Linked DNA regions of Homo sapiens. The protein of the gene in region 3 purifies or fractionates together with the protein of the main gene of each other region. This does not show direct contact. Each region holds a gene or a part of one and is shown on either strand. Other genes may lie near its edges.

Region 1 (3,651 bases), on a different chromosome or scaffold from region 3:
TTGTTTTTTGAGACAGAGTTTCACTCTTGTTGCCCAGGGTGGAGTGCAACGGCACAATCTCAGCTCACTGTAACCTCCACCTCCTGGGTTCAAGAGATTCTCCTGCCTCAACCTCATGAGTAGCTGGGATTACAGGCGCCCGCCACCACACTCAGCTAATTTTTTTTTTTTTTTTTTTTAGAGACGGGGTATCACCATGTTGGCCAGGCTGGTCTCGAACTCCTGACCTCAGGTGATCAACCCTTATCGGCCTCCCAAAGTGCTGGGATTACAGGCGTGAGCCACTGCACCTGGCCCTTTTCATGTTTTTATTACTCATTTGTATATCATTAGAAAAATGTCTATTCAAGTACTTTGCCCATTTTTAAATTGGGTTTGTACTTTTGCTGAATTTGTAGTTTTCAGTATTCTGGATATTAGGCCCTTATCGGACATATGGTCTGCAAATATTTTCTCCCATTGTGTAGATTATCTTTTAACTGTCTTGATAGTATCCTTTAATATACAAAATGTTTAAGTTTGATGAAGTTCAATTTATTTTTTCTTTTGCTGCCTGTGTTTTTGGTGTTTTCTAGTTTTAGCTCTTAAATTTAGTCACTGATCCACTTTGAACTAATTCTTGTATTTGGTGTAAGATAATGGTCCAACTTCATTCTTTTGTATGTGGATATGCAGTTTTCCCAATACCATTTGTTGAAGATTGTCCTTTCCCCAGTGAATCATCTTGGCACCCTTATCAAAAGTCAACAGACATCCAGATGCAGTGGTTCACGCCTGTAATCCCAGCACTTTGGGAGGCCAAGGTGGGCGGATCACTTGAGGCAAGGAGTTCAAGAACAGACTGGCCAACACAGTGAAACCCTGTCCCTACTAAAAATGGAATAAATTAGTTGAGTGTGGTGGCGCATGCCTGTAATCCCAGCTACTTGGGAGGCTGAGGCATAAGAATCACTTGAACCCAGGAGGCGGAGGTTGCAGTGAGCTGATATTGCACCACTGCACTCCAAACTGGGTGGCACAGTGAGACTCTGTCTCAAAAAAAAAAAAAAAAAAAAAAAAGTCAACTGAACATATATGCAAGGTTTTATCTCTGGACTTTCTATTTCATTGGTCTATATGTTTATTCTTTTGCCAGTGCCACACTGTTTTGATTACTGCAGCTTTGTAGTAACTGAAAGAGTTACTGAAGAGTCCTCCAGGTTTGTTCTTTTTTTAAAGATTGTTTTGGCTATTTGGGGTCACTTGAAATTTCTTAGGAATTTTAGAATGGGTTTTTCTATCTCTGTAAAACATGCCATTGGGATTTTGAAAGGGACTGCATTCAATCTGTAGATTGGCTGCTTTGGATAGTATTGTCATCTTAACAATATTAAGTCTTCCAATCTGTAAACACAGATGTGTTTCTATTTATTCATGACTTAATTTCTTTTAGCAATGTTTTGTAGTTCTCAGTGTATAAGTCTTACAGCTTCTTAAATTTACTCCTGTCTTTTATTTTTTGATGATCTTGTAAATGGAAATGTTTTCTTAATTTCTTTTTTTGGATTGTTCATTGCTAGTATATAGAAATACAACTGATTTTTATGTGTTGGTTTTATACCCTGTAACTTTGCTGAATTCATTTGTTAACTTTAGGGTTTTCTAAATACAAGATCATGGCATCTGAGGATAATTTTACTTCTTTCTTTCCAATTGCAATGTCTTTCATTATTTCATTTTCTTGCCTTATTACTACAACTTCCAATACTATGTGGAATTAAAGTGGAAAAACTGGGCATCCTTGTCTTTTTCTTGATTTTAGGGGAAAATCTTACAATCACTCACCATTATGACATTAGCTATGGGGTTTAAACATCTTTGTTTTTTAAATCTCTGGACTTTATCATGTTGAGGAAGTTCATTTCAGGTTTAGTGGTTTTATTTTTCATCATGAAGGAATGTTGAAATTTGTGAAATGCTTTTTCTGCATCAGTAAGATGATTATGTGGTTTTTGTCACTTCATTCTACTAATGTGATGTATTACATTGATTGGTTGTCATATGTTGTACTATCTTTGTATGCCAGGGATGAATATCACTTGGTTATAGTATGTAATCCTTCTATTTTGCTGCTGACTTTGGTTGCTAGTATTTTGTTATATAGCAAGATGTTTTAGCTTGTGTCTTTGATGTGAGATTTCCATTACTAAAAAACTCATTTTTTATCAAGACTGATGAGATCTATCTACCAATTAATGGGGAAAACAGAGGACCAAGTCAAAGGACCTGACAGGAATGCAAATTTCTAAAGTTAGTGATATGGGTTGGATTTGTGTCTCCACACCAATCTTATGTTCACTGTAATCCCCAATGTTGAAGGTGGGACCTTCTGGGAGGTGACTGGATCATGGGGGCAGTTTCTAATAGTTTAGCACCATATTCCCCCTTCTGCCAAGATTGTTGATATGGTTTGGCTGTGTCCCCACCCAAATCTCATCTTGAATTGTAGTTCCCATAATCCCCACATGTTCAAGGGTGGGACCAGGTAGAGATAATTGAATCATGGGGGCGATTTCCCCTATACTGTTCTTGTGATAGTGAATGAGTTCTCACGAGATCTGATGGTTTTATAAGGAGCTTCCCCCCTTATGCTCATCACTTCTTCCTGCTGCCATGTGAAGAAGGACGTGTTTGCTTCCCCTTCTGCCATGATTGTAAGTTTCCCAAGGCATCCTCAGAAGCAGGGCAGTAGCCACTGTGCTTCCTCTACAACCTGTGGAACCATGAGCCGATTAAACCTCTCTTCTTTATAAACTACTCAGTCTCAGGTATTTCTTTATAGCACTGTGAGAACAAACTAATACAGTTAGTAACTTAAAAGTTACCAAAATGATCTTAGAATAATTAGTTGCTACCCAAAGGTAAAGAGAAATACTTTACTCTTAAACTTACACGATATTAATTATATACTCACCACATATGAACTAAAGAAAAACAAATGAATACCTAATTAAAAAATGATTAAACTATTAATACTACCTTTAAAATGTATTATTACAAAAGATATTAAGTCTTCAGTCATTTGTTTTAAAACAAAAATCATATCACTACCTTAAATGTTTTATAAAAAGCAGCATCCAATGCTTTCAAAATTTCTTCATCAGGGCGCCACTTCAGTTTCCCTCTGAGACCATGACCTGTCTTGTAAGTTTCTAATGCGATCAAAATATGAAATGGATGTATACGAGCCTAGAAACAAAGTATAAGGAAAATTTTAGCAAAAAACAGTGATTATGTATACTCCTTAGATTTTTGTGTTATTGTAGCTAATAACTACATTTCATATAGAAAAGAGAAAAATGAAAATGTATTAAACTTACACTTAAGAGCCATAATGCAATTTGGTATAATGAACATCTCGAAATACCTTAAAAATGCACTGACGGCATTTCTAAAATTTAGGAGCCACTTTCTCAGTTAGTAGTAGCTAATAAAGAACAATGATAATGCTTACCTTTTTTAATAGTTTTTCATTACACAGTTTTTCACATACTAAAGATACTTCTGAATTTCCTGGTTCAAGTACTGAATTAGCAGTCATCTTTCCTAGATTCCTTAGTAATGCAGTAAGCGGCATTTCTTGTAACAAAGCCTTCCATACCTATTGCAATA
Region 2 (3,651 bases), on a different chromosome or scaffold from region 3:
TGGTATAGACTGAGAGTCTGGAAAATTAACTCTCACATTTATGGTCAACTGATTTCTTTCAAAGGGTACCAAGACAATTCAATGGTGAAAAAGTCTTTTCAACAAATAGTGCTGTAACAACTGGCTATTCACATGCAAGAGAATGAAACTAGACCTCTTCCTAATATCACACATAAAATTAACTCAAATGGGTTGTAAATTTAAATGCAGGAGTTAAAATTACAAAAATCGTAGGAGTAAAAATCAGGAGTAAATCTTTGTGACCTTGGATTAGGCAATGGTTTCTTAGATATGACACACAACACAAAAGCAACAAAAGAAAGAACAGATAAATTGAATTTCATCAAATTTGAAAACTTGTGCTTCAAGACACCATTTAGCAACTGAAAAGACAACCCACAAATTGTGAGAAAATATCTACAATTCATATATCTGATAAGGAACTTATAACTAGAATATCTAAAGAACTTCTACAACACAATAATAAAAAGATAAGTAACAATTTTAAAGTGGACAAAAGATTTGAATAGACATTTCTTCAAAGATATACAAATGGCCAATCATGAAGGGATGCTCAACATAGTCACTAAGAAGGTGCAAGTCAAGCTGGGTGCAGTAGCTCACGCCTGTAATCCCAGCATTTTGGGAGGCTGAGGCGGGTGGATCGCCTGAGGTCAGGAGTTTGAGACCAGCCTGGCCAACATAGTGAAACTCCATCTCAACTAACAATACAAAAAATTAGCTGGGTGTGGTGGTGCGCGCCTGTAATCCCAGCTACTAGGATGGCTGAGGCAGGGAATCACTTGAACCTGGGAGGCGGAGGTTGCAGTGAGCCGAGATCGCACCATTGCACTCCAGCCTGGGCAACAAGAGCAAAACTCTGTCTCAAAAAGAAAAGAAAAACAACAGAAAGTGGAAGTCAGAACCACAATGAAATACTACTTGCATCCACTAGCATGGCTATTAAAAAAAAAAGACAATATTAAGTTTTGTTGAAGATATTGCAAAGTTGGAACTCTCATACACTGCTGATGGGAATGTAAATGGTGCAGCCACTTTGAAAAACAGTCTGGCAGTTTCTCAACAGGTTAAACCATTACCATATGGCCCAGCAATCCATTCCTAGGTATGTACCTGATATGGTTTGGATATATGTCCCCTCCAAATCTCATGTTGAAATGTAATCTCCGGTGTTGGAAGTGGGGCCTGGTGGAAGGTATTTGGGTCAGGTGGGCGGATGCCTCAAAAATGTCTTGGTGCTGTCCTCATGATAATAAGTGAGTTCTCACTCTGAGTTCACACAAGATCTAGTTGTTTAAAAGAGTGTGGCATGCTCTTGCCATGTGACATACGCCAGCTCCCCCTTTGCCATGACCATAAGCTTCCTGAGACCTCACCAGAAGCCAAGCAGATGCCATTGCCACACTTCCTGTGCCACCATGCCCAGCTAACTTTTAAATTTTCTGTAGAGACAGAGTCTCACTATGTTACTCAGGCTAGTCTTGGGCTCAAGCAATCCTCCTGCCTTGGCCTCCCAAAGTGCTGGGATTACAGGCATGAACCACTGCACCCAGCCAGGTATTTCTTTACAGTGATGCAAAAATGGCCTAACATAATACCTATGTATATACTCCTAGGTATAAAAAACTGGAAAGCTTATGTTCAAACAAAAATTTGTACACAAATGGTCATAGCATCATTATTCAAAATAGCCAAAAAGTGGAACCAACCCAAACATCCATCAACTGAAGAATGGATAAACAGAATGCGGTACATCCAAAAGAAGAATATTACTTGGTAGTACAGAGGAAATTTTACAGGCAACATGTTCAACATGGCTGAACTTTGAAAACATATGCTCAGTGAAAGAAGCCAGTCACAAAAGACCACATACCCTATATTTCCATTTATATGAAATGTCCACAACAGGCAAATCCACAGAAACAGAAAGTAGATTAGAGTCTTCCAGGGGCTGGAGGTGGAGGCAGGAGTGGGAATGTTGGCCCAGAGGAGAAATGGGAAGTGACTTAGCTATGGAGTTTCTTTTGGGGGCAATAAAAATGTTCTAAAGTTAAATAACAGTGATGGATGCAAAATTTTGTGGATATAACAAGTACAACTGAATTGTATACTTTAAAAAGGAGAATTTCATTTTTTGTGAATAATATCTAAATAAAGCTGTTTTAGAAAAATATAACAAGAGAAACTGCTCACATAATAATATAAAGTGAAAAAGTCATGAGACATAATTATAGCTGAGTTTATAATAAATATGTAGAAAAACAAATTTAAAACTATAAAATTTTTTCTTTAATAATAAAAAAATGGAAAGATATATACCAAAATATCCATATTAGCTTGCCTCTAGATAACTGGGAACTCAACTTCTCTTACCTTTTCTAAATATATTTTTCTATACTTTCCTTTTTTTTTTTTTTGAGGCAGGGTCTTACTCCAATTGCCGAGTCTGGAGTGCAATGGCGCAATATCAGCCTCAAACTCCCCAGACTCCTTCAGCCTTCCAAGTAGCTAGGACTACGGGTGCACTCCACCATACCCAGCTAATTTTTTTGTATTTTTTGTAGAGACGAGGTTTTACCATGTTGCCCAGGCTGGTCTTGAACTCCTGGTCTCAAGCAATCACCTGCTTTGGCCTCCCAAATGCTGAGATCACAGGTGTGAGCCACTACACCCAGCCTCTGCTATACTTTGTAAACCACAGTGGCCAATCTTGTTGGTATCTGGCTGGTGTTCCTTCCTTTAGGGAATGGGGGAATGGCCCCTGTGGCATCTTGGGATCCTGTCTCAGGCTCTGCTTCAAGGATACCCAAACCAAGACATAGGCATTGCATCACTTTCCAGTTTAGAAAGCATTTCCACATGCAACACAGTATTTTATTCTCACAACCCTGGGAGGGCAGTATTATTATTCCCATTTTATAGATAAAGAACTGAGACTCAGTTGTTTAATGCCAGTGATGAGTTCATCCCATACATATTTATAGACAGAAAACAAATTCCACGAAGATGTCTTATTCAGAGGTACTTCACCTAAAACGGGTATAGGAAGAGCAGACCTGGAGGCTCAGGAAACTTGCTGGCCCCATGCTCCTCATCTATAAAGCGAAGGATCAGACCAGAGCAAGCTCACAGCTCTCTTCGAGCTCCAATAGCTGACAAGTCCCCAGCTTTCTCAGTAAGCATTTTCCAGTTTGTTCCAAACAAATACTCTAAATACTACCGCTAATGATGGCTTTTCTGTGACCAGACTCATCACAAAATGACCACTCCATAACCAGTTGAGTCAGGGTCAGAAAAGGGGTCAGCTGAGTAAGGTGGAATCAGGAATTTCAAGCAATTCTAGAGAATGACAAAATGCTTACAGTAAAGATGCAATTTAGAAAAAATAATAATAGCAATAGTCTAGCAGAAAAATTGGGGTGTGAGTATCCATGTCTCTTCAGAGTGCTGAGCAATTAAAAATTCACTGTTTTTATATAAAGTGAAAAGATGAAGAATGACCACTGTGAATTCCTGGAGTGTGGCCCCACACCCGTTTCGCTATCAGGAAATGTGGCACTCCTGCCTAGGTTTCCTAGAAAGCCGCTCTTTCCCATGCCAGCATTCTGACTGTCACTGAAACACCCACAG
Region 3 (3,751 bases):
AAGAATCGGCAAGGATGAGCGAGTCCGGCCGCTGGGGCCGCCCCCGCGAGCTCCCTCCCCCCGCGAGGCAGGTCCCCTCCACTCTCCCCGCACTGCCGGAGCCGGCAGGTTTCCATGGGAACCGCAGCGGGGTCCGCGCGCCCAGGAGCAGCCCCCCTCCTAGCTCAGTTTCCGATGACGGAAACCGGGAGGAACACGGGGTGGGGAACAGACCATCGCTTGGGGCCCCTAGCGCCCGCAGCCAGGTCGCCCCGGCGAGCCCAAGAGGGGCCACCCGGGGATCTGCACCGCCACCGCCCCTATTGCGCGGGCCACTGCGATTGGCCTGCCCTTTCCAGGCGTGGCAGCATCCCCTGGTGCGCGCACTCCCATTGGCTCGATCTCTAGGGCATCTTCCAGTAACTGGTTATCTCAAGGGCCGCCCCTGATTGGGCAAATTAGGCTCTCCTCGCTGGTGGCGCTCTCTGACAGTCTGGAGCCTAAAGGGCGTGCAGGAACGAGGATTGGGTGGGGACTGCCGCTCTCCAGTTAGGGGGTCTGGGCTACCTCGCCGGCAGCGCCCTCGACCGGACTGTCGGATTGCTGTCTGTGGTGCTGAAGCCTCACGCCCTGGCGACCCCGCCCCAGTGTGTGCTAGTTCCCGCGCCCCGACGTAAACATGCACCGGCGCCCGCGCACCAAAGGAGGCTGCGCCACCCCCAACGCCTTAGAGAGAGGCCAGGTTCCCCCTAGCAGAGAGCGAGCATGACTCCACAGTCAGGAGGACCAATCACGAGCCTAGAAAGCCAGGACATTTATGTGGCAGATCCACCCACCCCAGTTCTGTGGGGTCCAAGAAGGATCCGTGGTTTCCCAGAGCTGCATGGCTCCAGCGATGATTGTCCAGAACACTGAGCCCCAAACCTTTTCACCCCCTTCGGAGCAGTGCGGAGTTTCCTTGCACTGGGGAGTGCCAGTCCTTACCTTTTGAACCCTAGAAGGATCCAGCTCACTCAAAACCAACAGCGTCCCAGTCTCCTTCTGCAGAAGACTAGGGCCACAGTAGCCACCCTCCCCCGTGGTCTTGAGGTGGTCTACACTGGTGCCTCCAAATCTGGGGACCCAGGCCTCTGCCTACTAAAATATTGGTTCCTGATCCCCTGTCCAGTTCCCTCAGTGGACAACACCTCTGGAAGGTCGCATATTCAGGCCACTAATACCTCCTCGCTCTGTTGGCTCCTCCAGCTCTAGGAGCTGGACGGAGGAGGGGAGCCCGTCTCCTGGCCCGAAAGCCAGCCCAAGAAGGGGTGCCAGGGTAGGAAGCAAGGGCCTCGAGGGAAGGAGGGCCCAAATCTGGCAACCCGAGCACCTAGGATGCGCTTTTGGGGGATTCAGAGTCCCGACCAGTGCGCGCTCACTTCCACCTGCCGCGCCGTCGGGAGCCGCGAGGAGGCGGAGCTCGGTCGCCGCAGCCAATGAGCGACGCCGGCGCTGGCAGCTGCTGCTATAAAGGGCTGGGGGCGGCGGCGGCGCGGTCCAGAGCGCGGAGCGCGCAGCGCGGGCCGGAGGGAGGGAGGGAGGGTGGGCGAGGGGAGAGGACTTGAACACACGGGACCGGACAGGACCGACCGAGGGGCGGCGGCGAAAGGCAGAGCGCCGCGATCTCTGTCGGGAAGCGCAACCTCCCCGGGCCCCGCGGGGCCGCGCAGGGGGCGTCCTCAACCCCGCGCCCGCTCCCTCTTTCCATCCCCTGCCGCCCGCAGGCCACCCCGGGGCCCGGCCATCCGCGCGCGCATCCCCGGGTTCGGGCCCGTCCCTGGCCCTCGAGGGAGCCGCCGCCTTCATCGCCACATCTGCAGCGGCCGCACCAGAGGCCGCCCGGGCGGGACCCCAGCGTGAGCATCGGGCGCCCCCCTAGGAGTGCACCACCCCCGGAGCCCCCCTCAACACGGACCGCGCCCGCCGGGCACACAAGAATGGTCACTGTAGGTATTCCCCTGTCGCCGAAAGGGAATCGGGACGGGGAGGAGTTGGGCCCAGGCTCCGCGGAGATTGGGCGGGTGCGGCGGGGGGGGTAGGACCAGGCCTAGCTAGGCCCGGGTTGGGGGGGTAGGACCAAGCCTCGGGGCCTGAGAGTGGGCAGGGCCGCGCCCAGAGTGCTGAGGGCGCTTAGAGCTTGGTCTGAGAGGGCCTTAGGGAGACTGACTGCGATTCGGGAGGCGTCCGACGCCGCCCTGGAGGCGGGATTGCCCCCTCTCCAGCAGGCCTGATGGGGGAGGGGCCGCGGCGGCTAAGGATGCTTCCTCCATCCAGGCCCAGACCCCGCAGGCCGCCCAGGCAAACGCAGGGCCCGATCACTGGTGCTGGGCCAAGCCAAAGCGACAAAGCGTCCCCGAGAGCCCTGGGAAAGCGGGTGGCGTCGGATCGCGCGCCCCGGGCCTCGGCCGCACCCGGGAGGCGGGCGTCTCGTCCTCGAGCCCGTCGACCTTGCGGCAAGCGGGGAGGGGAGAGGAGGGGGCGCGCCCGGAGGCCCCGCGGGCCCGCCGCCGCTGCTGCCGCGTCCCTTTGTTTCTCGGCGCTTCTTCGCGGGCCGCAGCCTCGCGCGGGCGCCTCGGGCTGCGGGGAGGGGGAGGGGAGAGGAGGGCCCGCGGGTTGGGGGGGCACCTCTGGGCTCCCGGGTCTCCGCCCCCCGGGAGATGGGGTGGGAGGCCGAGACAGCCCCCTTAGGCCAGGTCCAGGCTCCCCACCTCGCCAAGGCTCTGGGCCGCGAGGTGACCTTGAGCGCGGCCCGCCCGCCTGCTCGCCCGCACCGCTAGCCCCGCGCTCGGTGCTTTCAGCAGCCACGGAGCTGGTCAGCTCCCGAGCGCGCAGCCCCTCCCGCCCTGCCACGCCCTGCCTGGCCACGCCCGGGCACGCCCATCTAGGCCCCGCCCCCAGGGCCCCGGGGGCCCGGCCTCGCCCGAGCCCTCGGATTCCCACTCGGCAGCCCGGGCGTATCCCGGGGGCGGGGCTGGCCAGTTATAGCCCCACCCCGGCTCCACCCCCGCCCCTGCCGCGCGACTCCGCTCCCCGCGCCGCCGCGCGTCCTTTGTCTGGTCCCGGCGCCTGGGCCTCCCTCTTCCACTCTTCCTATCTCTCCGTCTCTGCGTGTGTGTCTCTGTGCATTGTGTCTCTTTCCGGGCCCCTTTTTCGAGTCGTGGCTAGCACTGGGGGTGGGGGCATGATTGGCGCTCCCTCCATGCCTAAGCCTCTCCCCTCCTGGACCCTGGGACCCGCCCACCTGGCTCTGAGAAATGAGGTCCCGGAGGCCTGGCTCACCTGCTGTGTGACCTCAGGCCGTTCCTTTCCCTCTCTGGGCCTCGTGCTGTTCACCCAGGTCTGGGAACTGGAGTGTGGCCTCCTGAGGACCTCAGAACTCCCGCAACAGTCCAGCATCTCCTAAGCGTCCTCTGATCGGTTCTCTCATTTGAAAAAGGAAACTAATGCACAAAGGGAAAGAGGGTGTGGTCAGAGGTCACACAAGGGCCTTGAGGACCTAGGTTCTCCAGTGAGCGAGCCCTGGGGCAGAGATGTATCATGGGGACAGGCTGGGAGGAAGAGAGGTGACAAATTAAGACCAGGAGGACCCTGCATTGAAGAAGGGCCCAGAAGTAGGAGGCTCAGTCAGCACCACGTGGTAGCCCAGCCTCACCATGCATAGCCACTCAATGCCCTATTGTCGCCGGTATCCAGGCATCTGTCACTGTGACTGGGGCCAGGGGCCGCAGCTGGG

Evidence for each region.
Region 1: the proteins of ELAVL3 (region 3) and RO60 purify together in Homo sapiens (affinity purification with mass spectrometry, with the first as the bait; one large-scale study listed by BioGRID). This does not show direct contact.
Region 2: the proteins of ELAVL3 (region 3) and CRTAP purify together in Homo sapiens (affinity purification with mass spectrometry, with the first as the bait; one large-scale study listed by BioGRID). This does not show direct contact.

The regions. Positions count from the first base shown.
Region 1 is NC_000001.11:193,076,490-193,080,140, reverse strand, and holds part of RO60 (RNA-binding protein RO60), read right to left. Parts: intron 3,641-3,651; coding exon 3,494-3,640; intron 3,229-3,493; coding exon 3,091-3,228; intron 1-3,090. UniProt on the Homo sapiens protein: RNA-binding protein that binds to misfolded non-coding RNAs, pre-5S rRNA, and several small cytoplasmic RNA molecules known as Y RNAs.
Region 2 is NC_000003.12:33,134,394-33,138,044, reverse strand, and holds part of CRTAP (cartilage-associated protein isoform 1 precursor), read right to left. Parts: intron 1-3,651. UniProt on the Homo sapiens protein: Necessary for efficient 3-hydroxylation of fibrillar collagen prolyl residues.
Region 3 is NC_000019.10:11,478,813-11,482,563, reverse strand, and holds the start of ELAVL3 (ELAV-like protein 3), read left to right. Parts: upstream 1-1,517; 5' UTR 1,518-1,955; coding exon 1,956-1,964; intron 1,965-3,751. UniProt on the Homo sapiens protein: RNA-binding protein that binds to AU-rich element (ARE) sequences of target mRNAs, including VEGF mRNA. May also bind poly-A tracts via RRM 3. May be involved in neuronal differentiation and maintenance.